Regions from separate parts of the Homo sapiens genome. Here regions 2, 3, 4, 5, 6 and 7 are each reported to be linked to region 1. Evidence: microRNA targets listed by miRTarBase, many of them from high-throughput screens and not tested one by one. Region 1 holds a microRNA gene; each other region holds the end of a gene's coding sequence.

Region 1 (3,113 bases):
CCTAAATTTGAGGTACCTCAGTTTAAGATATTTTGGTCCATGTGTGTATGTGATGATCCTCTTTACTTTTTACAAGATGTCATATAACCTTGCTGGAGTAACTCTGTTTTTTCATATGTGCCCCAGTTAATTAGAATTACTAAACTTTAGATAAGATAGAATATAGGTTTTACATATAAGGATATTTGTTTTCGGAAAATGCCCATAGTCTTCAGAATGGTATAATTTAGATGGATACCAAATAACCCTGGGATTATATAAAGTATTCTCCAAGAGGCAAAATTAATTCCTGTCATCTTTTGAATGTATTTAAATTAATCAGACATAATCTTGGTTGTTCATTTGCATATTTAATTTTGATTTTCTCTGGTTTGGATATTGTGCAAATGAATGTGTAGAACTATGCCTCCAAACTGAAGTTTTCTACATACTTTTCATCCTAACTGCCTTTGAAGTCATACATATATTTACATATATATATATTTGTTTTTTTGTTTTTTTTTTTTTTGAGACACAGTCTCACTCTGTCATCCAGGCTGGAGTGCAGTGGTGCCATCTCTGTTCACTGCAGATTCTGTCTCCTGAGCTCAAGTGATTCTCGTGCCTCAACCTCCCGAGTAGCTGGGATTGCAGGTTTGCGTCACCACACCTGCCTAATTTTTGTAATTTTAGTAGAGACAGGGTTTTACCATGTTGGCCAGGCTGGTCTTGAACTCCTGACCTCAGGTGGTCCGCCCGCCTCGGCCTCCCAAAGTGCTGAGATTACAAGCGTGAGCCACTGCGCCTGGCCTGAAGTCATATTAAAGGATAGATTCTACTATAAGGCTTGATAGTTTTTAGAAGCTTTTAGTTACTTGTGCTCTCTCCACCAACTTCTAATTGTGAATATTTTGTGAATATTTTGTTCAGCCACATTTTAATTTGAAAAAGAAAACATTTTTAAAGAAATGCTTTAAATACTTTAACGAATATACCATTTTTAAGATCCTGATTATGCCATTTTTAAAAATCAGGATTTTAGTAGTAGCTATTTGTATGACTGATATGATAATTAACTTTTTCCCCAAGAAAACAGTCATTTTCTTTGTAGCGCTTTTTTAAAAACCCTAGTGTCAACCACCTCTATGTCAAAGAGCAATAGTTCTTAAAAAAACACACATTTCTGAAATTTATAATGACCTTGTAATTTCTGACATAATTTAGAATTTGAGAACAAAACTTCCTCTTAGAGTGGGCTTGGAGAGTGGGATTTAGAGAATCAGCCTGTGATTAAGTGGATGAAAATGAATTTGTTCTCTAGAACTTACCATTCCCATCAGTTTAATATGATCTTCGGGAAAGAACATTTGTCACCATTATCTTGGTTTGAGGCTTTTGTTGTTTTGTTTGTTTTCGAGACAGGTTCTCGATCTGTCACCCAGGCTGAAGTGCAGTGGTTTGATCATGGCTCACTGCAGCTTCCACCTCCTGGGCTCAGATGATCTTCCCACCTCAGCCTCCTGAGTAGCTGGGACCACATATGTGGGCCACCAGGCCCAGCTAATTAAAAAAATTTTTTTGTAGGGACAGGGGTCTCACTATGTTGCCCAGGCTTGTCTTGAACTCCTGGACTCAAATGACTCTTCTAGTGTTGGGATTATAGGTGTGAACCTCCATACCCACTGAGTTCAGTTTTTGAGTGTTGCCCTTTGTCTAGCTCATAACTATATTACTGATATTACAAGTAAAAATTAATATGAAACTGACTGAATAGGTAGGGTCATTTTTCTGTGACTGCACATGGCCCAACCTATTCAGTTAGTTCCATATTAGTTTATTTCATATTGATAAGTAAAGCGTGTTATTATGAGATGAATCATAGGTATCTTGGACTTACTGTGGGTTATAAAACATATACTGTTACTTCCTTAATTTGTTGTGGGGAGGAATAACATACTCGCATCTGGTAGTCCAGGCCAGGCCCAGTCTTTTGTCTGTGCTCCTCCTTCCTCTCAGGTGGACCCACACCAGTTTTCTTCCGTAAGTCCCTGTATTAACTTGGAAACTACTTAATGATGTAGTAAGCAAGGAGTTTAGCAGGTGCAAATTACAGGTATTTCATAGGGTATTTTTTCTAAATTTATATTTATACTGATTTATAATGATGATTGAAATATTAATGTAACATATATGTGTTCTTTTTTAATATTTACTTTTTTGTTAAAGGAATAAGTTCCCCTGTCAGTGGAGGATGGGATACTTCAACCTGGGGGTTGAAATCAAACACTGAACCTCAGAGTCCACCAATAGCCTCTCCTAAAGCAATCACAAAGCCAGTTCGGAGGACTGTGGTCGATGAATCTGAAAATTTCTTCAGTGCCTTTCTCTCGCCAACTGATGTCCAGACCATTCAGAAGAGTCCAGTGGTATCAAAACCTCCAGCAAAATCACAACGACCAGAAGAAGAAGTGAAAAGCAGCTTACATGAATCCTTGCACATTGGCCAGTCAAGAACTCCTGAAACAACTGAATCACAAGTAAAAGACTCTTCTTTGTGTGTTTCAGGGGAAACTCTGGCAGCAGGTACTTCATCACCTAAAACTGAAGGCAAGCACGAAGAAACTGTTAATAAAGAATCGGATATGAAGGTGCCAACTGTAAGTTTGAAAGTATCTGAAAGTGTAATTGATGTGAAAACAACTATGGAAAGTATATCTAATACGTCTACGCAGTCTCTCACAGCAGAAACAAAGGACATAGCTTTGGAACCTAAGGAACAAAAACATGAAGACAGGCAGAGCAATACACCTTCTCCTCCTGTTAGTACCTTTTCATCAGGTACTTCTACCACCAGTGATATTGAAGTTTTAGATCATGAAAGTGTAATAAGTGAGAGCTCAGCGAGCTCGAGACAAGAGACTACAGATTCAAAATCAAGTCTTCACTTGATGCAGACATCTTTTCAGCTTCTCTCTGCATCTGCTTGTCCTGAATATAATCGTTTAGATGATTTCCAAAAACTCACTGAGAGTTGCTGTTCATCTGATGCTTTTGAAAGAATAGACTCATTTAGTGTACAGTCATTAGATAGCCGGAGTGTAAGTGAAATCAATTCAGATGATGAATTGTCAGGC
Region 2 (3,113 bases), not on the chromosome of region 1:
GTCTGACCCCTGCTCTGGGCTCTCTCTGCCCCAGGCTCAGCCACGGTGCTGGTGGCAGGGGGCTTTGCAGGCATTGCTTCCTGGGTGGCAGCCACGCCCTTAGACATGATCAAGTCCCGGATGCAGATGGATGGACTGAGACGCAGAGTGTACCAGGGGATGCTGGACTGCATGGTGAGCAGCATCCGGCAGGAAGGACTGGGAGTCTTCTTCCGGGGGGTCACCATCAACAGTGCCCGCGCCTTTCCCGTCAATGCTGTCACCTTCCTCAGCTACGAATATCTCCTCCGCTGGTGGGGATGAGCCCTGCGGCAATGCCAGCAGCTCCCCATCAGGCCCACGGCCTGGAGGCCAGTTTGAGATTGGAGGCCAGGTTGAAAGCTTGCAAATCAGTGCAAGAGGCTCAGCCCTTCCTAACCAAGGTGCCTCCCACCCGCGCAGATCTGGGCTGGGCAGACACCTGTGGGAGCCGGAAGCCAGGGGGCCTGTGCAGCCTCCCTGTGTAGCTGGCCTTGACTCCTTTGCCTCCCACATCTGTGAAACAGGGAGCATGAGGCACAAGTGAGCTGGCAAGTGGTGCTGGTGACATCCCAGCTCCTGTCCTGTGCCTTCACCTCTTTTTTTTTTTTTTTTTTTTTTTGAGATGGAGTCTTTCTCTGTCACCCAGGCTGGAATGCAGTGGCGTGATCTCGGCTCACTGCAACCTCCGCCTTTCCACCTTCCGGGTTCAAGCAACTCTCCTGCCTCAGCCTCCCAAGTAGCTGGGACTATAGGCGCCCGCCACCACACCCAGCTAAATTTTTGTATTTTTAGTAGAGACAGGGTTTCACCATGTCAGCCAGGATGGTCTTGATCTCCTGACTTTGTGATCCGCCCGCGTCGGCCTCTCAAAGTGCTGGGATTACAGGCGTGAGCCACCGCGCCCGGCTGCCTTCACCTCTTAAGGAGCTCTGAGACTCCACTTCTGAGAGTCCCTGCGGCCTCCCACCTCCCTGCCTTTCAAAGCTCTCTCCCCCATGACCCAGGATAACCCTATGTCTCCTCCCCCAGAATCCTTCAGTGGCTCTCATCACCTTCAGGAAAAGCCCAAACTCCTTCCACCCTCCAGGTTCCTCCCTCCCCACGAGGCTTTGTTCTCCTGGGGTTGCTTCCTGGACCCTGAACAAGTTGTGCTCTCATTGGCCGGGCCTGGCCAGCAGTGCACAGTGCCTGGCAGGTTGACTCTACCATCCCCGGGGCTGGCCCCGCTCTCCTCCGAGACCCAGGCTGAGCCCAGTCCCCTCACCCTTCCTTGACTTACCTCCCCACCTGAGGCTGACTTTGGGGTTCCCAGACACCCTACCCACACACATGCCTTGATCATAGCACTTGCCTGCGCTTCTTCAGAGTCATTAATTTGCTTCTCGGCTTCCCCACTGGACTGTGAGCTGCCTGAGGTCAGGGATTGCGCTTTGGATGGTTTCCAGCCTGAGCCTGGTGCTTGAACAGACGTGTGCAATAAATGCTCGTTAAATGATGCGACTGCACTCCTGACCTGTCTCTTCACGCCAGCTGCCACACCTGCTTCCCTGGTCTTGCCACACAGCTTTCTGTTGAACCTCCCAGCCCCCATTTTCCTGCTCTGACCCTTCTCGAGGTCACCTGCAGTGGAGGATGCTGGGAGCTGGGGGTCTGTCTGCTTTGCCCACTCCCAGCCAATGGTGCTTGTTTTCTTTTTCTTTTTCTCTATTTTTTCTTTTATTAGATACAGAGTCTCACTCTGTTGCCCAGGCTGGAGTGCAGTGGTGCCATTATAGCTCACTGTGGCCTTGAACTCCTGGACTCAAGTGATCTTCCCACCCTAGTCTTCTGAGTAGCTGGGACTACAGGTGTGTGCCACCGCACCTGGCTAATTTTTAATTTTTTTGTAGAGAGGAGGTCTCACTATGTTGCCCAGGCCGTCTTGAACTCCTGAGCACAGATAGCCCTCCCACCTTGGCCTCCCAAAGAGCTGGAGTTACAGGTGTGAGCCACTGTTGTTTTCTTTACCCATCTCACTTGCTCAGTGGGAATTAAAAACTGGCTGAGAGGGTTCTTTTAACTGACAACAAAATTGAGCATCAAGGGCCATTTGTACCCACTAATGTCCCTATCTGGTCTGAGATCAACGTGAGTCCACCTCATGGTGACCTGAATTCCTGCCATTTACTGGGGGCTCCCTGTAGAAACAATCACAGTGTTATGATCACAGTTGATAGAGAGGCAGCCTCGGCTCAGAGACATTATGTAACTTGTCCTAGGTCACACCGCGGGTAAATCATACAATTTGCTTAGATGCCTCTGAGCTTCCAGCCGCAGTGTCCAGTTACTTAGCTACCCTGCTCCACCTGGGCACATGGCTACCCTGCTCCACCTGGGCACATGGGGGTCTTCTGCGAGTCACCTAAGTTCAACTCCCCCCACACCACCCTGGGCTAGACCTGCCGGGACCATACTACGTCACGTGCTCATCAGAGCTCTCCTTCACCAGATCATGTGCTGCAGATGGCTGGAGGCCATCTGCAACTAGTTTTTGTATTTTTAGTAGAGATAGGGTTTCACCATGTTGGCCAGGCTGGCCTCGAACTCCTGGTCTTATGTGATCCACCCGCCTTGGCCTCCCAAAGCGTTGGGATTACAGGCGTGAGGCACCTGGCTCTGTCCTTGTTGCAACAGTTTAGGCCCTTGTTGCAACAGTTTAGCAAGCTTCATCCTGACTCAGTGGGTAAGGTACTGTGAGTTTCTAAGTCAGTGGTAATCCAAGTGTGGTCCATGGAGCAAAGCTTATTAGAAATGCAGCATCTGGCCAGACACAGTGGTTCACACCTGTAATTACAGCACTTTAGGAGGCCGAGGCAGGAGGACCACTTGAGGCTAGGAGTTCAAGACCAGCCTGGGCAACATAGTGAGACCTTGTATCTACCAAAAATTTAAACATTAGCCAGGTGTGGTGGCACTGTGCCTGTAGACAGAGCTGCTTGGGAGACTGAGGTGGGAGGACTGTTTGAACCTGGGAGGTTGAGGCTGCAGTGAGTTTTGATTGCGCCACTGTACTCCAGCGTGGGTGATGGAGCAAGACTCTGTCTCAAATAATA
Region 3 (3,094 bases), not on the chromosome of region 1:
TTGGGCAACACTTCTCCGTGCTTATTTGAACTGTTGCCCAACATATGGGATTTGTTTAAACACATGATTTGCTAATCCAACAAAAGTACAGTTGTTGTAAGTTACTGTAAATCAGTTTTTAACAATGGCAAACCAACTGTTTTACCCTGTTATTGTTCAGAATCATCAATACTATTGTATATGTGTACGTAGGTAGATGTGTGCAGCATGCGGCAGGTTTGCCAGGTCCTCCAGTTATAGAAAGCATGGAATCTGGGCAGACTTGTTCTCTGCAAGAAAGGGAAGCTCTTAAAATTAACAGGCATACTGACACTGGAAGCATCTACTACAACCCTCACCTCAGTTACATGGTCCCTGGTCCTATTAAAGGAAATGACACACCTGTAGCAGTACGAGGTGTCTGCGTGGAGGTTGCTTGTAGGAGAACAAGTGCAATTTGATCAGTTTCTCACTGCTCTACTGAGCTGATAATTAGCCTTTAAAACACATTCAAGTGGGGGGAAAAAGTAAATTAGAATGTAGAAAGCCTTTATCATATCATACTCAAATCTTTTGCTTAGATGAGCAGTTCCTTCATCACAAACGTCTTTGCTTTGCCATGTGCATTACAAAAATAAAACTAACTATGGCTTGCTTAAAGTGCCATTTTATAAAGTTGTCTTTTTTAATTAGCCAGAAAGACCCAATTTTATCCATGGCAAGAAGTGAGCAGAATTGGTGACTGAATATTGACAAATGACCAACAACAAAGACAACAACAACAACAAAACATCCCATAATTTAAAAATTTTTAAATAAATATAAAAGTTATTCCTAAAGAAGCCATCTGCATAACAATATAGGTTGTAACCTGCACTCAACAGCTAAAGTACCATTGGAAGAAAAGAAAAAACTGAAACAAGAAGGCCATAAACAGTTTCGGCAACAAGCATGATACATTGCAACCTTTTTAAAATTAAATGTACACCACTAGGAATAAAAAGCTACTTCTCAAGTGTGTCCTGGGAGATAAGGTGATGGGGGGGGGAATTGGGGGGAGGAGGGAAAACATGCATAGAAAGTCCTGTCTGAGTTTTGGGGTAAAACAGCCTTGACAAGTGTGAAGTAGCTGACTCAGGAAAGCAACCAGATGGGAAGCTGTGACGTAATGTGATGAACTCCAGGTTCAAGAGTCACACATGTTGTAAGAGTGCATCCCGGGCCGGCCGAGGCGAGCCAAGCTCACTGTGGTGATCACGAAGATGCCATTTTCAGCTCTTAGCAACACAGGGAAAGCTCTAGGGAAAGGAAGCTGCAGAAGACAATTAAGCAACATGATGGATGCCTTCTGGGGAGATTTTCTTCTTTAAGGGCCCTAAGCATTGCAACAGGGCTGAGTTCCATGAAGAAGTTGGTTGCTTTTCGGATGTAAAATTTTGTTCGGATGTAAAATTTCAGGTCATCATAAAAATTATGCCAAAAAGGAAAGATCTGGGTTTTCATTAAAAAACAAAATAAAAACAATTAAAAGCGCAAACTTGGCATAAATACACTCTTAAGAAAGACAGTAGCTTTACCCTCAAAAGAGGGAGCAAAAGAGAACCATCACTTAAACCCCCAGCTCCACAGCCATCTCCCGCCAACTGCTTAATGCAAGTTTGATGAGCACATGTGGCTCTGGCTTTGGAAGTCACAGTACTGGCGGGTGTTGGTGCCAGGGGGTCAGTGCTTGTGAAATTTGGGTGTGATATCACCTGGCCCTTTCTTAAAGCACTGTGTGTGTGTTTATGGGTGTGTGCATGTGTGTGCCTGTGTTTGCATTTGGGGACATCAACTGCAGATTGATTTGATCCAATTTTCTCTTGCACCATACACATATAAAACATTACAACTCTATAAAAGTACAAGTGCAACTTGTACATCTGAAGTTTGCAGGAACTATGTGAGCAAATCCTATCAAAATAGCTATCTCATATGTATAAACAGCATTTGTTTTTAGAAAAACAATATCATAAACTGCAGAATCTGTACAAAAATATAAAATAAATTTGGGCAGCAGTTTTCTAAACAGCCATGTAAATGCAACACTTACGAGGAGTAGTTAATGCCTCTAAAAAGGCCGAATTGCCAAGTCAACCTATACAGGGCAAAAATGCCAGAAAAGGTACTGAGATTATCTAAATAAGATATATATATATAGTTTTCTTCTTTACCTCTTGCAATAAAACTTATAGAAAAAATAGACAAATATGCACATGCAATTTACAGCTTTTCCAACTTAATCCTTGTGCTTCACTTGAACTGTTTATTTTTGTCATTCAACATTGCAACATTGTCTTCAAATGGATTCTTTCCTATACCAGGGTAGTAGGTCTCTGAGGAACCACTCAAAAAAGTGTATTAAAAGTGGTCATACTTGGATGAAGGCACTCCAACTCTGCTCAAAGCAAAAACTAGTGTGATCCTGTTGTAAAATTTTCTTTTTCTCTGAAAAAGGCAAGCAAGGGTGCATGCACAGTGTGGAGAACTGTCAGGGTTATGGGAACGCTCTGGGGTCTGGGTGGGCATAGTCGCTGGGTCCCTGGGTCTTAGGACCCAACAAGCACCTCCATGATGTGGTCCAGCTCTGTGAGGTCCATTTTGAAAGGCTGACTTGGGGTGACAGGCTGACTGCTGTAAGGAGCCAGAGTTTTGAGGAGGTCGTCGGCAGACACAGGGGCCATTTTTGAGGCTGTCCCTGATGAGGAAGTGCAGGGGTCAAAATCATACATGGACGTATCAATGTCAGCAAACAGGATGTCATCCAGGGTCAAGTCTGTCAGGAAACCCGTGGACGTCGTTATTTCAAAATTCCCAGGCAGAGAGTCCATCAGTTTTGAGTCATCTGCGCGGCTCTCTTGAGGACCGTCGAGTTTCTGGGTGCCAGCCTCGCTGGAGGTCCCTTTCACACTGTCAGTCGCAGCCGTGGCCGCCTCTGTGGAGGTAGATGTGGGACAGAGCTCCTCGATCTCGTCCAAGGCAGAGGAGAAACTGTCCTTTTCTGGCAAGAGGGCTGGAGGTGACAGTTTGGTGGGAGCCGTGGGCTGCATGGCCTGGGAGGTGCAAAACGTGTCAT
Region 4 (3,000 bases), not on the chromosome of region 1:
CGCCTTCTGCGACCTGCCCCTCTAGCAACGCCAAGTCCATGCCAGCGGACGTCTCGGAAGCCCTGATGTCCATCTTCCAGGAGGAGGGTGGACTCTGCAGCCCGGACGCAGCCGCGTATCTAGCCAGGCTCCAGCAGACACGGCGCTTCCAGACAGAGACGTGGGCCTGAGGCCCGCGGCTGCCCGTGCCCCCTCTGACAGCCATCCTCCTGGGAGCCCAGGAAGGCATCCACGAGGGAGCTCCTGGCCAGCAGCCGTCATCCTCTCGGACCAGCCAGCTGGTCCTCTGGGAACAGCCAGCTCCCGAGCACAGCCGCACTCCTGTTGACCCTGGATCCCACCCTTTGAGCCTGACCCCACTGCAGCCTCTGCCCAGCCAGCCCTGCGCTCCCCCACCCTGACAGTGAGCTGTGTCCTCGTCCCCCCACCCCCTTCCCAGTCAAGGTGGTGGCCTGGGCCGCTCCACCTCACCGGTGCAGTGACCCAGGACGGCATCAGCAGCCCAGTGAGCACCAGGGGTGGCATAGGGCACCCATGAGGCTGCGCTGCACTCCTCTGCCCTGGGGCCACCTCGGCTGCTGCAGCCTGCCCAGCAGCACATTCCAGTCACTGCCCCCGCACTCCCACAGGGCTCAGGCTGGGCTCAGAGGCCACTGAGATGCCAGCTCCTTGAGAGCAGTGGGGGTGTCCCAGGCCAGAGCAGCCTCTTCCTCTCCTGGTCCCAGAAAAACCCTTGCAGTAAATGGTGGCCTCTGGGTGGTTACTTCTAGCGCAGGCTTCCTTCCTTCCTCTAGCTCCTCCCGGTGCCCTGGGTGCTGGGTGCTGGATGGATGGGCGTCCTCTAGCTCCTCCCGGTGCCCTGGGTGCTGGGTGCTGGATGGGTGGGCGTCCTCTAGCTCCTCCCGGTGCCCTGGGTGCTGGGTGCTGGATGGGTGGGCGCCACGGTGCACCCTTGTTGGGCTGCCTGTGCCCGAGTGGCCTCTGCAGCTCTTATGTCTGCCTCTAATGGGATGTGCGCCCTGACTGCCTCGTTCTTAAGGGCATAGTGGGTCGGCTAAGATCTGATCGCCAGGACTGCGTTCTGGGCAGGTGCTGGGAAGGCGGAACCAAGCCGTCCGTGCCGCTAGGGAGCCGAGACTGCCGGAAAGAGGAGCGGCAGGAGGGGGCGTGGTTGTGCAGCCCCACCCCCGGGAGGGGCTTTAGGCACTGGGAAGGAAAGTCCTGTTGGAGGAGTTCGGTGGCTGTTCACACCCGCCTCGCTGTCTTGGAGTCTTGATCTGTCGTCGGCGGGTCGCTGGCACAGGACTAAACATGGCTGAGGCTGGGCTCCAGCCAGATCTGGCTGGGGACAGCACCGCGTGGGCCCAGGATCCACCCAGAGCAGGCAGGCCTTGCTGGGGCCCCAGTCAAGTCCACTTCCAGTGAGGAGAGCCAGCCGGGAGGTCAGTGCCAGAGCTCTGGTGGAGCCCAGACCCTGCCTTCCCTGAGGGCCGCCCCTGTCGCCGCCCTGGGGTCCCTGTCCTCCTATCCTGACTCCTGCCCCAGGGCCACCACCCCTGAACTGTGCCCTGGGGCCCCCACCCTCCACCTGGCCGACTCCAGCTCTGGGCCTGTCAGTCCACCTGGGTCCTCTCTGGGCCCTGAGTGCCTGGACCCTCTGTGCCAAGCACCAGCAAGCAAAGGGGATGACCTTGGGCACCCCCAAGGTGCTGAGACTACAGCCAGTGAGCCCCTGCTGGGGGCCAAAGCCATGGAGGGTGCCTGGGCCCTTCCAACCTGGAAGGAGGAGGGGAGAGAGCAGGCAGCAGGGCAGGGGGAAGAGGAGGAGTGCCCGATCTGCACAGAGCCCTACGGGCCCAGAGAGCGCCGCCTGGCCCTGCTGAACTGTAGCCACGGCCTGTGTGTGGGCTGCCTGCACAGGCTGCTGGGCTCGGCCTCCAGTGCCGACCTGGGCCGGGTGCGCTGCCCGCTGTGCCGCCAGAAGACGCCCGTGCTGGAATGGGAGATCTGCCGGCTACAGGAGGAGCTGCTACAGGCCGACGGGCCCTCACGCCAGCCCCGCCGAGAGGCCCCTGCATCCTATCACCGCAACCCTGGGCCCTGGGGCTCCCTGGAGCACCGCTACCAGCTGCGCTTCCTGGCAGGGCCCGTGGGCGGCCGGGGCTGCCTGCCCTTCCTGCCCTGTCCACCCTGCCTGGGTGCCCGGCTCTGGACCCTGCGGGAGCGGGGACCCTGTGCCCGCCGCCTGGCGCTGCTGAGCCTGCTGGCCCTTGAGCTTCTGGGGCTGCTGCTGGTCTTCACGCCGCTCCTGCTGCTGGGACTGCTCTTCGTGCTCCTGGACCGCTCTGGCCGCTGAGCAGAGCCCAGGACAGCCCCGCCGCCAACAGGCCAGGGGGCCCAGACTGGCCCACGTCCCCATGCCTGGGTGCTGTGAGGCCTGATGACCAGGCTGGAAAAACCCAAGGTTGGGTCCAGGGCAGTGGCCTTCAATCAAGACCTCCCATTGCTGAACCCACAACCAGGGCTACCCAGAGGCCTGACCCTGCCAGAGTCCATGGCTGCACTGCTGCCCAGACACTAGCTGAACCCAAGGACACCAGCGCCCAAGGACAGCTCCTGGAGGAGGCCAGCCCAGCAGGAAAGTCTGTGAGCAGGACCCCATTCACCCTGCGGCAGACGGGCACCGTACTGGCCACGGGCTGACGCCGGCCACACTTCCCCTCCGAGGGCCAGCTGAGCACAGCAGGCATGAAAGCAAACAGAGATACAGCAGTGAGTCAGTTCCTTGGAGAGGGCAGGGACTCCGCCCACCCTGTGTTCAGATAAGGGCCAGTGTGTGTCCCTGAAGGTCAGGCCAGCCGGGGGAGGGGTCCATGCTGCGAAAATTCAGCCTGCAAAGGCTCCTCTCCCCACTTGATCAGGCCCAGACCAGGTGGGGGTTGGCGCTGGCCTGTGTTGCAGGGGACAAGGGCCCACCCAGGCCTTGGAACATAAGCTCTG
Region 5 (3,000 bases), not on the chromosome of region 1:
AGATTCCCTCACTTTTGCCCCCAGAAACTGCATCGGGCAGGCGTTCGCCATGGCTGAGATGAAGGTGGTCCTGGCGCTCACCCTGCTGCACTTCCGCATCCTGCCGACCCACACTGAACCCCGCAGGAAACCCGAGCTGATATTGCGCGCAGAGGGTGGACTTTGGCTGCGGGTGGAGCCCCTGGGTGCGAACTCACAGTGACTGTCCTACCCACCCACCCACCTCTGTAGAGTCCCAGAAACAAAACTATGCTGACACCTCTGCTTGAGCCTCGTTGACAGCCAGCATGGGGCTCCTGGGGACTGGTGGGATCTAAGAAAGGGAGGTGAGTGGGTGGAGGCAGGGTGACGTCTCTGAACCCAAAACCCTGACGGCCTCTCTGGCTGAGCACAGGGCATCTAGGCCCTTAGTGGGTTCTCCCAGAGCCCAAGTAAAAACTTTATCCTGTGGGCAGTAGGGAGCCCTGGGAGGTGTTTGAGCAGGAGAGGGAACAGGATTAAGAATGGGTTTAAGGAGCAAGACTGAGACTCTGATTCAGCGAGAAACAACCATAGGGGCAGATCCCTTCATCTGTCCTGGGAATGTCCTCCCAAGACTGGAGTCCTCAGCTCAGAACAAAGGGAAAGGGGTGCAGCTTCCACCCTGGCAGGCTCTCAGAAATTTTTAGTTCCTTTTTCCACCAACTTCCCACCCCTGTTTCTCCCCCTCCCAGTGCGTTCTCTCTGTGACTCTCTTCCCTTACTTTCAGAGGCATAGGATCTGGAGCCAGACTGCTTGGGCTCAAGTCCTGGCTCTGCTGCGTGACTTGAGCAAGTTAATTCCTCTCTCTGTGCCTCGGTTCCCTCAACCATATAATGGAGACAACAGCATTACCTATATCAGGGTTTTCCTGAGGTCTCAATATAAGGGACTCAGAGCTGTGCCTGGCACACAATGAATGCTAAATATATGGAGCCATTATTATTTCCTGTCTCAGAAAGTCTGGCTGTTAAAGAATGTTGTCTTTCAAGATCGTTATTTCTACCACGACTTTAAAGGCTGTGTTTTGGAACTCAAAGGCAAAAATTCTAATATCTGTGCTCCTTGAACAACCTCTTCTCCTAGAGGGCTGTGCATATAAGATATGTATATATATATATATATTATATATATATATATATACACACACACACACACACACACACACATATATACATATACACACACACACACACACACACACACACACACACACATATATATATATATATATTTTTTTTTTTTTCCTGAGGATGGTGAAGGTACCTGACTGTGTGAGGTGGTAGGAGAATGAGAGAAACCTCAGTCAGTGTCTCAAAATAAAATCCTGCTACAAACATTGATCTCTTTTCATAGCCTAAGGGATGTTGCATCGCTAAACCCTGTTGACTTCTCTAATCTCTTCTGTAGCTGATCTCCTTCCCTTGCTACACTCGGTTACTCTGGCCTTGATTCTGATCTCCAAATACATTATATTTTTTATTTGGGACCATCGTATTGCCTTTGCACCTTTATCAAATATAAGTTGCCTATATTTATTTGGATCTATTTTTTGGGCTTTTAATATTCTGTTCCATTGACCTATTTCTCTTTTCTTTTACCAATACCGCAACATCTTGGTTACTGTAGCTTCACGGTAAGTCTTAAAACTTGGATATTGTCAGTCCTCCAACTATGTTCTACTCCTTCAATATTGTGTTGGTTATTCTGAGTCTTTTGTCTCTCCATATAAATTGTAGAATTAGATTGCTGATATCCATAAAAAAACTTTCTGGAGGGCCCCAGGGAGCGCGGGGCGCCGCTGCTGCTGCTGCTGCTCCTCGGCTGGGTTGTGTCTACTGGGCCCGCGGCTGCGGCGGCAGAGGGGCCTGAGCCGGGAGCCGCGCTCAGCCGAGAGTTGGGCAGAGGGAGTGCCCGCGCCGCCGCGGCGTCATGGGCCCCCTCCCCTCACCTCAGCGGGCACCAGCCGCGGGAACCCCCGGGCCTCCTCGCGCCCGAGCCTGAGCGACCCCTGGGTTCTCCGGCGCCCCCTCCCTCCCCCTATTTTTCTTTTCCTGCTCTTGCTGACCCTACCGCTTCTGTTCTCCGTTATGGCAAGAGAGCCACCATCCCCGCTCCGGGTCGAGGCGCCGGGTCCCCCAGAAATGCGGACCCCACCGGCGATCGAGGCCACCCCTAAGGGCACCCTGCAGCCGGCAGGCGGCAGACTCCGCTTCCTCAGTGGCTGTGTGCCCATCTTGCATCAGGTGGCCGGGCACAGGTATGGGAAGGACAAAATGGGTATACTGCAACATCCAGATGGCACAGTTTTGAAACAGTTACAACCACCTCCAAGGGGCCCAAGAGAGCTGGAATTCTATAATATGGTTTATGCTGCTGACTGTACCGATGGTGTTCTTCTAGAGCTACGACAATATTTGCCAAAATATTATGGCATCTGGCCACCTCCCGCTGCCCCAAACGATTTATACCTAAAACTGGAAAATGTGACCCATAAATTTAATAAGCCCTGTATAATGGATGTAAAGACAGGGCAAAAAAGCTATGATCCTTTTTGCCTCATCTGAGAAAATTCAGCAATAGGTCAGCAAGGACCCATTAATGGAAGAGATTGGGTTCTTGGTGCTTGGCATGAGGGTTTATCTTGTTCATTCCCATAGCTATGAGACACAAACCAACATTATGGAAGAAGCTTAACAAAAGAAGCTATAAAGGATGGAGTCTTCGGATTTTTTCATAATGGGTACTGCTTAATAAAAGATGCTGTTGCTGCCATTATTCAGAAGACTGAGAAAATTCTGCAGTGGTTTGAAAACCAGAAGCAGCTTAACTTTTACGCAAGTTCATTACTGTTTCTTTAGGAAGGTTCATCTCAGCCAATCACTACAAAACTGAATGACAGAAATTTGGCAGAAAAGTTTTTGTCCAAAGGACAACTGTCAGACACAGAAGTACTAGAGTGCAATAATAACTTTCATGTA
Region 6 (3,113 bases), not on the chromosome of region 1:
CCGTTTCATACTGCACATAGGGATATTATTTTTAAAGCCTAATTAGATAAATATATCTAACTTGCTCAACGTGCTCTTCCTAATCATCTCATCCATGATAGTATAAATAAAAGCCAGTGATTGCCTGGGTTACAATTCTTAGTGCCTGAAAAATAATGTGGCATTTTTATAATTAATCCATAATGTTGCCAACTTGTTTGTTTTTCTGCAGTAGAATAGACTCCACTAGTAAAGGAATTTTTAATTCTTGATGTAAACATTAACCTGTGCCATGTGAGCTAGTCTTACATTCCCTTCCCCCAGTTGTGGGCTCATTTAATGAGCCCTTTCCTCTCTTTTCCAGGGTGCTGATAAGACTGTGAAAGGCCCAGATGGACTGACCGCCTTTGAAGCCACTGACAACCAGGCAATCAAAGCTCTTCTCCAGTGATGGATGGATGGACTGATAACTCCGGAAGAATGACTCTCCTGTGGCCTCACACTGCTGCCTGTCTGTCTGTCACTCTCTATCTGCCAGCTTCTTCAGCTAAATACTTTAAGAGGGGTGAGGGGAGAGAGAAATTCATAACAAATCCGACTACCAGAAAAAAAAAATTGTTTTGGAGGAGGGGCAAAAGGAACCATGATCAGGCTTTTACTGGGATTCCTGATCAAGTAAGCCTCTTCCCTTTCTAATAAAATATACACCTTATACCCAAGGGAGAGCAAAGACAAAATACACCAGTAACATTTGACCTTTTCAGCTCCCTAGCTAATTTATTAGATTGTGTTGAAGGTCTGATTCTACAAAGGCCAACTCTACATATTTGGTAGCCCTAACTGTCTGAGCAGTAGTGGCTGCTGTGATGTAAACTTAGGGTGCTGAGATAAGCAATTAGCTCTAGCCTTCTGCCTTAAGAATGCACTCTACTGGGGATTTCCTGGCATAGTTAAGAGCGCTGCCTATAAGGTTGGTGACCAAATCTTTCCTCGGTGACTTTAAGCTTTATGTGAAAGCTTAGTTAAGGTGAGGAGGGGCACACTCCTAAATTGCTGGATGACTGAACTTTGGATTTTCTCTCCCCTTTCACATGGATTTCATGTCTCTTTAGATAAAACTGACTAGTTTTATTTATAAAATCTTAAGTTTTGGAAGTCTAAAGGAGAAACCATTCCAGTATGCATATTTTTTTCTCCTCTAGATTCATACATTTATATAGCATTGAAACACTTTCAAACTCCTGCTGGTAGTAAAAGGGGATTTAAAAATAGAATCATAGCCATAAGCCTGTTAGTATCATATGAAGAGAGAACAGTTATCTTAGTACCTATGGATTTTCTTTATTTGCTGTTTGAATGGATTGACCTTGGTTATGTGTTGAGAATTAAGGAACATTCTTTGAAATGCCTCTCTCAGACCCATCTTGGAGGCTGATTACTTACTGCACCAAAGCTATCACTGGGGTGAGATTTACTGTTTGGACAAATTTAGCCCCATCCCTTCAAAAATACACTTGTAACCAGGTTTCCCAGAGTTGTTGATAGGCTTCTGCTGAACATATGCCAACCCACCTGCATAATATATTTTTGTTGCTTTTATAAATCATGCATTACATAAAGTGTGACAACTTCAAAATGTATTCTCTGTTCTTGGAATACAGTGCCCTAAAATGGTGTTCTTATGACCTGCAGAAAATATTTACACATATTTCCAAATATTTATTTCATGAGCAGTACAGCTAATTAAAATATATAAGCTTAAATTTTATATCTTACATTTAAAATATTAAGATTCCTTTGACTTGCCATCCATATAAGCTTGCTAAAAATATTAAGACCAAGTCATGCAATAATTGAATGTACCTCAAATTTTTAGGGGAGGGTGGGTTAGGGACTGATACTCAGATTGTGGATAATAATTGAATTGGTTTTTAAAGGCAACATAGCATTCTACAGCAGGGTTAATCTATTATCAAGAACAGTCACCCTGGTTAATAACAAGTTTTACTGATCAGTTGCTGGTTGGTTGGTTGGTTGGCATGTGGGTGTGTGGGTGTATAGGTGTGTGTGGGTGTGTGTGTGTATTTTTCCCCATGAGTCCTTTTTTTAATCCTGTGGCTTTTTCACTTACAACTAGCCTAACCCTGTAATTTTCCTACATCCAAGAAAACAATCACAAAGTAGTGGTTTAAATACTTTGTTGTATTTGGCTAATTTTGCTGTCTTAATGCAGCCTATTAAGAGTTGGGTTAAAAATCAGTAATCAGTACTTTATTACATCACTGAACTAAAATATGGAGACATCCTCATTGAAAATGGAGGGCACTCTATCAGTCTATAACTATCAACGTAGTGCAACAGGGTGTTTTGATACCTTTGTTTTCACCTCTTGACATAATGCTATTTAAAGGCTTGAATTTTTCCCTTTATATAATTTTCACCTTTACTTTCAAAGTGTTTTGTTGTAGTTGGCTATTGCAGAGAGTGCATTGTCCTATCATTCCTAAACCTGGTCTGCTTTCTACATTCATGGTATGGAAACCATGTGATTCTTTGTACAGTTTATCCTGATGTTGCTTGTAATGCAGTAGAGGCTATTTCGCCTTCGCTTTTCTTTCTCGACCTTTTTGTAAACCCTATAATTATGAAGCGATTGCTTGAGAAAATAACATATAAACATAGAATAGAATAGACTGACCAAGATGGTTCACAGTTTCTTTTTTTAACTAGGTTATTTATAATGTATTTCTGAACCACTTGGCAGACAAATTCACAACACTTAATGTTCATATTTTGAGTAAAGGAAGCTAAAACCATGTTTGCTTTCTGGTACTACATGCATTAGCGAAAGGTTAAGTAAGTTTTGTTCTCCACTGAAGTAATACTTAACATCTCAGAAAAAATTTTGCATGTTCTGTAGTTTTGTATTAAATCAGTCATTTCATATGCACTATATCAAGTACAAACAGGTAGTTTACCTGTTTATAGTAGTGTACTAACAAAGTCTCCCTTGCAGCTTCAGACTGTTATCTATAGGCTTATCGTTCAAATACAGCACTTGAATATCCCAAGTAGTTCTTCTACGCATAGCTCACCTTTCTAAACCCAGTTAAGCATGGAAGAGAGGTAGTAGG
Region 7 (3,113 bases), not on the chromosome of region 1:
AAAAGGACACTGTAGATTATGTCCATTAGCCTCATTTGTCATCTGAGGCAGCTGGTGAGAACAGCCTTGGCGTGAAGGCATCCCTGGTAGAAGTCGGGGGAGATAGATAGTCACAGTTCCCCAGTTGGTGGAAATGGGATGGGAGTAGGGAGAGGCTGGAACAGACCCTTCCCCATTCACCTGGAGAATTTTCTCCTCCCACTGCCCTAAACACTTTATTTCCATCACAGGGGAGAAATGCTGCTGAGAAGGTTGTGTTTGTTAGGTTGATGACGAATTTTACATTGGCCACAAAATTAGCTAGAGAAACTTATCTAAAGGTGGCAGGAGCAGTGGGGAGGGCATGAAGAAAGCAAGACCAAGAAACAACCTATTAAGGACCAGCTCAGCCACCCCGACTGGGCACCAGCCCCTTCTTACTCAGTTGAGTATGAGTCCATGGTCCAAGGCACTGTTGGAGATCTGGCTACAGTGGCATCTAGCACCAGAGCCACTGGCCAGATGTAGAAAATAAATAGAAAAATATCTTTCTTTTAGAGTGAGAAGGCTGAGCTCTGGAACAACGTATTTGTGTCCTCTGTCAACAGTTGAACCAAATTCTGCTTTTCTGAAGATCAAATGTATCTTGAACAGCTTCCATAGTCCTTTTGTTTCCAGGTGCGTATCCAGTCTTCCATGGTGGGTGGGAATGCCAGACACGCTTGTGGAGCCCTCCCCTGTTCCCTGCCCCTGAGGGGGTTAGGTTGACATCAGCCTGGTCAGTTTGGGAGAGGACCTTTAGAGGCCTCACCCACAACCTCCCATCTTCCCCAACACTTGTCTTGCAGTGGGAGCTCTTGGGGCTGCAGATGCATATAGCCAAACTCTCTGCAGCTGTTCTGCCTGGAAGCCTTCATCTTGCCCTCACCTGGGTTCCAGGATGGCCTCTTCACACCTGTGTCAGCCAGGCTTGCACTTGCTCAGATCCCTCCCACCAGAACACACACACACCGCCCGCCCCCTCAAACCAACGCACATGCTGGGCTCACCGACCCTGTGTTTCTTCCCCCCCGCAGCTACTACGGTCCCAGCCCCAGGAGTTGGATGCAAGTGAAAGGCAGAAGATAGGCAGCTGAGAGTAGGCCCAGCTCACCAGTCTCCACTGGCAATAACCCTGAGCCAGGGATTAGGTTGGAAAGTGAGAAACACAGGGAAGGGCAGAAGGGCCAAGAGCTCATTGATGGTAGAGGTTAGGCAGGGCCAGTCTCAAAGAAGATGAAAGGCCAACTCGGAACGTGGTATTGAATAAGAGCCTTGATGGAGTTTTAGAAAAATTTTGTCTAGATACAGCCATCCCATCCACCAAGGCCAGCATGAGATGGACAAAATGGAAGGTGGCAGTGGATGGGAGGACCAGAAGGAACCCCTTGCAAGTTGGGCTGAAGAACCAAATTGGGTACCAGAAATGGGGTGGCCCCCCTCTCAGCCTTCCTCCTTGGCACCTTCAGGTGATGTGCTCCCCAGAGGATATCAGCCTTCCTCCTCCATCCCCATCTCCCCAGTTTCCCTTGCCTGCTCTGCTGTTCGCACCATCTGAACGCCTGAGAGGAGGGGCCACCCTTAGAGACAGCATGTTAATGTAGAGGGCAGCTCTGGCCCTCAGACCTCTCAGGAACCAACTCCCCAACGCCAGTGGACACATGGTTCCAAGTGGCCACCTGCAGGCTGGACAGAGGCTGCTGTGGCTTCTGCCTTGAAGCTAGTGTTAGAGAAGGGGTGGGAGGGCCTGAGCAATTTATATGAAGTAGAGAACTATGGGATGGAGCTAAGCATTCAAGTGCTGCCCTCTGCTGAGGGGCTGTAGGGGACTCCAAGGCAACATTTGAGGTCACTGTCTGGCTTCACAACAATGGCCAGGTGTCCAGGAGATGGGGACATGGGAGATGCCCAAAAGGCATGAGGTGTGGTGATGCATGAGGTCTGTCTTGAGCCCCTCGCCAGATTCATCAAGCACCTGGTAGTGAGCCATAGCTGTGGAAACCCAAGGTGAGTCTTCTAGGACTGTGGATTAGTAGACAGGATGGAGGTGAGGGTAGAGAAGGAAGGGAAAGATACTTAAGACATGCAGGGAGAGGCCAGAGGACTTGTGACATGGGAAACAGACACTGCTACTCTGTCCTGATGGCTTTGGTCCCTGCATCATCCTTCCAACATTGACTGTTCTCTGGAACCTACCAGAGCTGATCTAACTAGAATATATAATGCCTCCTCTGTTCCCATTCAAGAGGAAAGTTTGCCCCCAGGTCAATGTTCTGTTGAGCCTCCCCTTGAGAGAAGGGAGTCTGGATTCCCTCACCAGATTCCCTCTCAGGGGCTCCCTCCATCATTGCTCCCCGTGCTACACAGGAACTCTGGACAAGGCTGTGGACCTCTCCAGTCTAGATCTGGAACTGTTCTGTGCCAGCACATGGGTGCCCATGGTAGGGGATGGGGAGCAGGGCCCCTTCAGCCTGGGGTTACCTGGCCTGAGGCCATCCAAGGCAGCCTCAGAATAATACCTGGGGCCAGGGCACAGAAGGAATCATGTGAAGGGGAGATAAGAGGAGCCCCTTAAGGTAAGCGTGGGGAGACACCTGGTCCAGCCACACACAGCCCCCCATCCCAGGACCCAGCCCAAGGCTCTAAACCAAGCACCAAATGGTTTAAATATCACCACCTCCTCCACTCAGCCCCATTCTCACCAGTCCCTGTCTCCCGGCCTCCTGTGTGGCTAGTTCCCCAGGTCAATAATTTAGCCGGTTTATTGCCCGCTCCCGGGTAACTTCCAGGGCCTGGCTCCCTGATCGCTTGCGGCTGCGCTTGAGCTTGCATAAGTCCTTGTCGAAGACCTCCCCAGAGCGCAGGGCCGACACCAGGTCATCGAACTCTCCTCCCTCCTCCAGCGAGCTGCCTGCAGCCAGGACCTTCCGCTGCCGCTGCCACCGCTCACGTTCCCTCTGCTCCTTCAGCTGCGGGCGGGGGGCCAAAGATAGGAACCCTCTCAGGGAGAGGCGCTGAGGCCAGGGCAGCCCCCCAACCCTGGGCTAACTCCTAGGCCATGGTCATGCTGCCTGCCTGTATCTGTTGGCCCCACT

The links. Region 1 holds the annotated microRNA hsa-miR-3136-5p (CUGACUGAAUAGGUAGGGUCAUU, at 1,742-1,764, shown strand). A microRNA usually pairs through its seed, bases 2 to 8, with sites in the 3' UTR of a target mRNA and lowers its output. Matches are read on the target gene's strand: a 7mer-m8 pairs with bases 2 to 8, a 7mer-A1 pairs with bases 2 to 7 and ends in A, and an 8mer does both.
Region 2: miRTarBase lists SLC25A45 as a target of hsa-miR-3136-5p. The part of its 3' UTR that is shown has no 7-base or 8-base seed match.
Region 3: miRTarBase lists SERTAD2 as a target of hsa-miR-3136-5p. Seed matches in the 3' UTR shown: 7mer-m8 at 719-725.
Region 4: the mRNA of NDOR1 is a reported target of hsa-miR-3136-5p. Seed matches in the 3' UTR shown: 7mer-A1 at 437-443 and 7mer-A1 at 1,404-1,410.
Region 5: miRTarBase lists CYP4F11 as a target of hsa-miR-3136-5p. Seed matches in the 3' UTR shown: 7mer-m8 at 1,322-1,328.
Region 6: the mRNA of MTPN is a reported target of hsa-miR-3136-5p. Seed matches in the 3' UTR shown: 7mer-m8 at 2,912-2,918.
Region 7: the mRNA of DAAM2 is a reported target of hsa-miR-3136-5p. Seed matches in the 3' UTR shown: 7mer-A1 at 2,193-2,199.

Annotation. Positions count from the first base shown.
Region 1 is chr3:69,047,655-69,050,767 of GRCh38, reverse strand. It overlaps MIR3136 (microRNA 3136), which reads left to right and starts at 1,733; the gene lies at 1,733-1,810. It overlaps TMF1 (TATA element modulatory factor 1), which reads left to right. Exons shown (of 17, transcript NM_007114.3): 2 at 2,206-3,113.
Region 2 is chr11:65,373,597-65,376,709 of GRCh38, reverse strand. It overlaps SLC25A45 (solute carrier family 25 member 45), which reads left to right. Exons shown (of 7, transcript NM_182556.4): 7 at 35-1,518. The coding sequence ends at 303. It also overlaps a transcript of FRMD8 not described here. Among named protein-coding and RNA genes, the nearest start is that of SLC25A45, 7.5 kb to the left of the region's middle. RefSeq lists an enhancer at 1-85.
Region 3 is chr2:64,633,360-64,636,453 of GRCh38, forward strand. SERTAD2 (SERTA domain containing 2) reads right to left here. Exons shown (of 2, transcript NM_014755.3): 2 at 1-3,094. The coding sequence ends at 2,568. Among named protein-coding and RNA genes, the nearest start is that of SERTAD2-AS1, 2.0 kb to the right of the region's middle.
Region 4 is chr9:137,216,247-137,219,246 of GRCh38, forward strand. NDOR1 (NADPH dependent diflavin oxidoreductase 1) reads left to right here. Exons shown (of 14, transcript NM_014434.4): 14 at 26-3,000. The coding sequence ends at 170. It overlaps LOC122513141 (ring finger protein-like), which reads left to right and starts at 1,248. Exons shown (of 1, transcript NM_001395982.1): 1 at 1,248-3,000. The coding sequence starts at 1,751. The coding sequence ends at 2,356. RefSeq lists enhancers at 959-1,698, 1,699-2,438, 2,439-3,000 and a silencer at 1,118-1,295.
Region 5 is chr19:15,910,934-15,913,933 of GRCh38, reverse strand. It overlaps CYP4F11 (cytochrome P450 family 4 subfamily F member 11), which reads left to right. Exons shown (of 12, transcript NM_021187.4): 12 at 25-1,557. The coding sequence ends at 202. It also overlaps the pseudogene LOC729654. Among named protein-coding and RNA genes, the nearest start is that of CYP4F2, 14 kb to the right of the region's middle.
Region 6 is chr7:135,927,243-135,930,355 of GRCh38, reverse strand. MTPN (myotrophin) reads left to right here. Exons shown (of 4, transcript NM_145808.4): 4 at 344-3,113. The coding sequence ends at 430. Among named protein-coding and RNA genes, the nearest start is that of MTPN, 49 kb to the left of the region's middle.
Region 7 is chr6:39,901,687-39,904,799 of GRCh38, reverse strand. It overlaps DAAM2 (dishevelled associated activator of morphogenesis 2), which reads right to left. Exons shown (of 25, transcript NM_001201427.2): 25 at 1-2,987. The coding sequence ends at 2,763. It overlaps MOCS1 (molybdenum cofactor synthesis 1), which reads left to right. Exons shown (of 11, transcript NM_001358530.2): 11 at 1-630. Among named protein-coding and RNA genes, the nearest start is that of DAAM2-AS1, 5.9 kb to the right of the region's middle.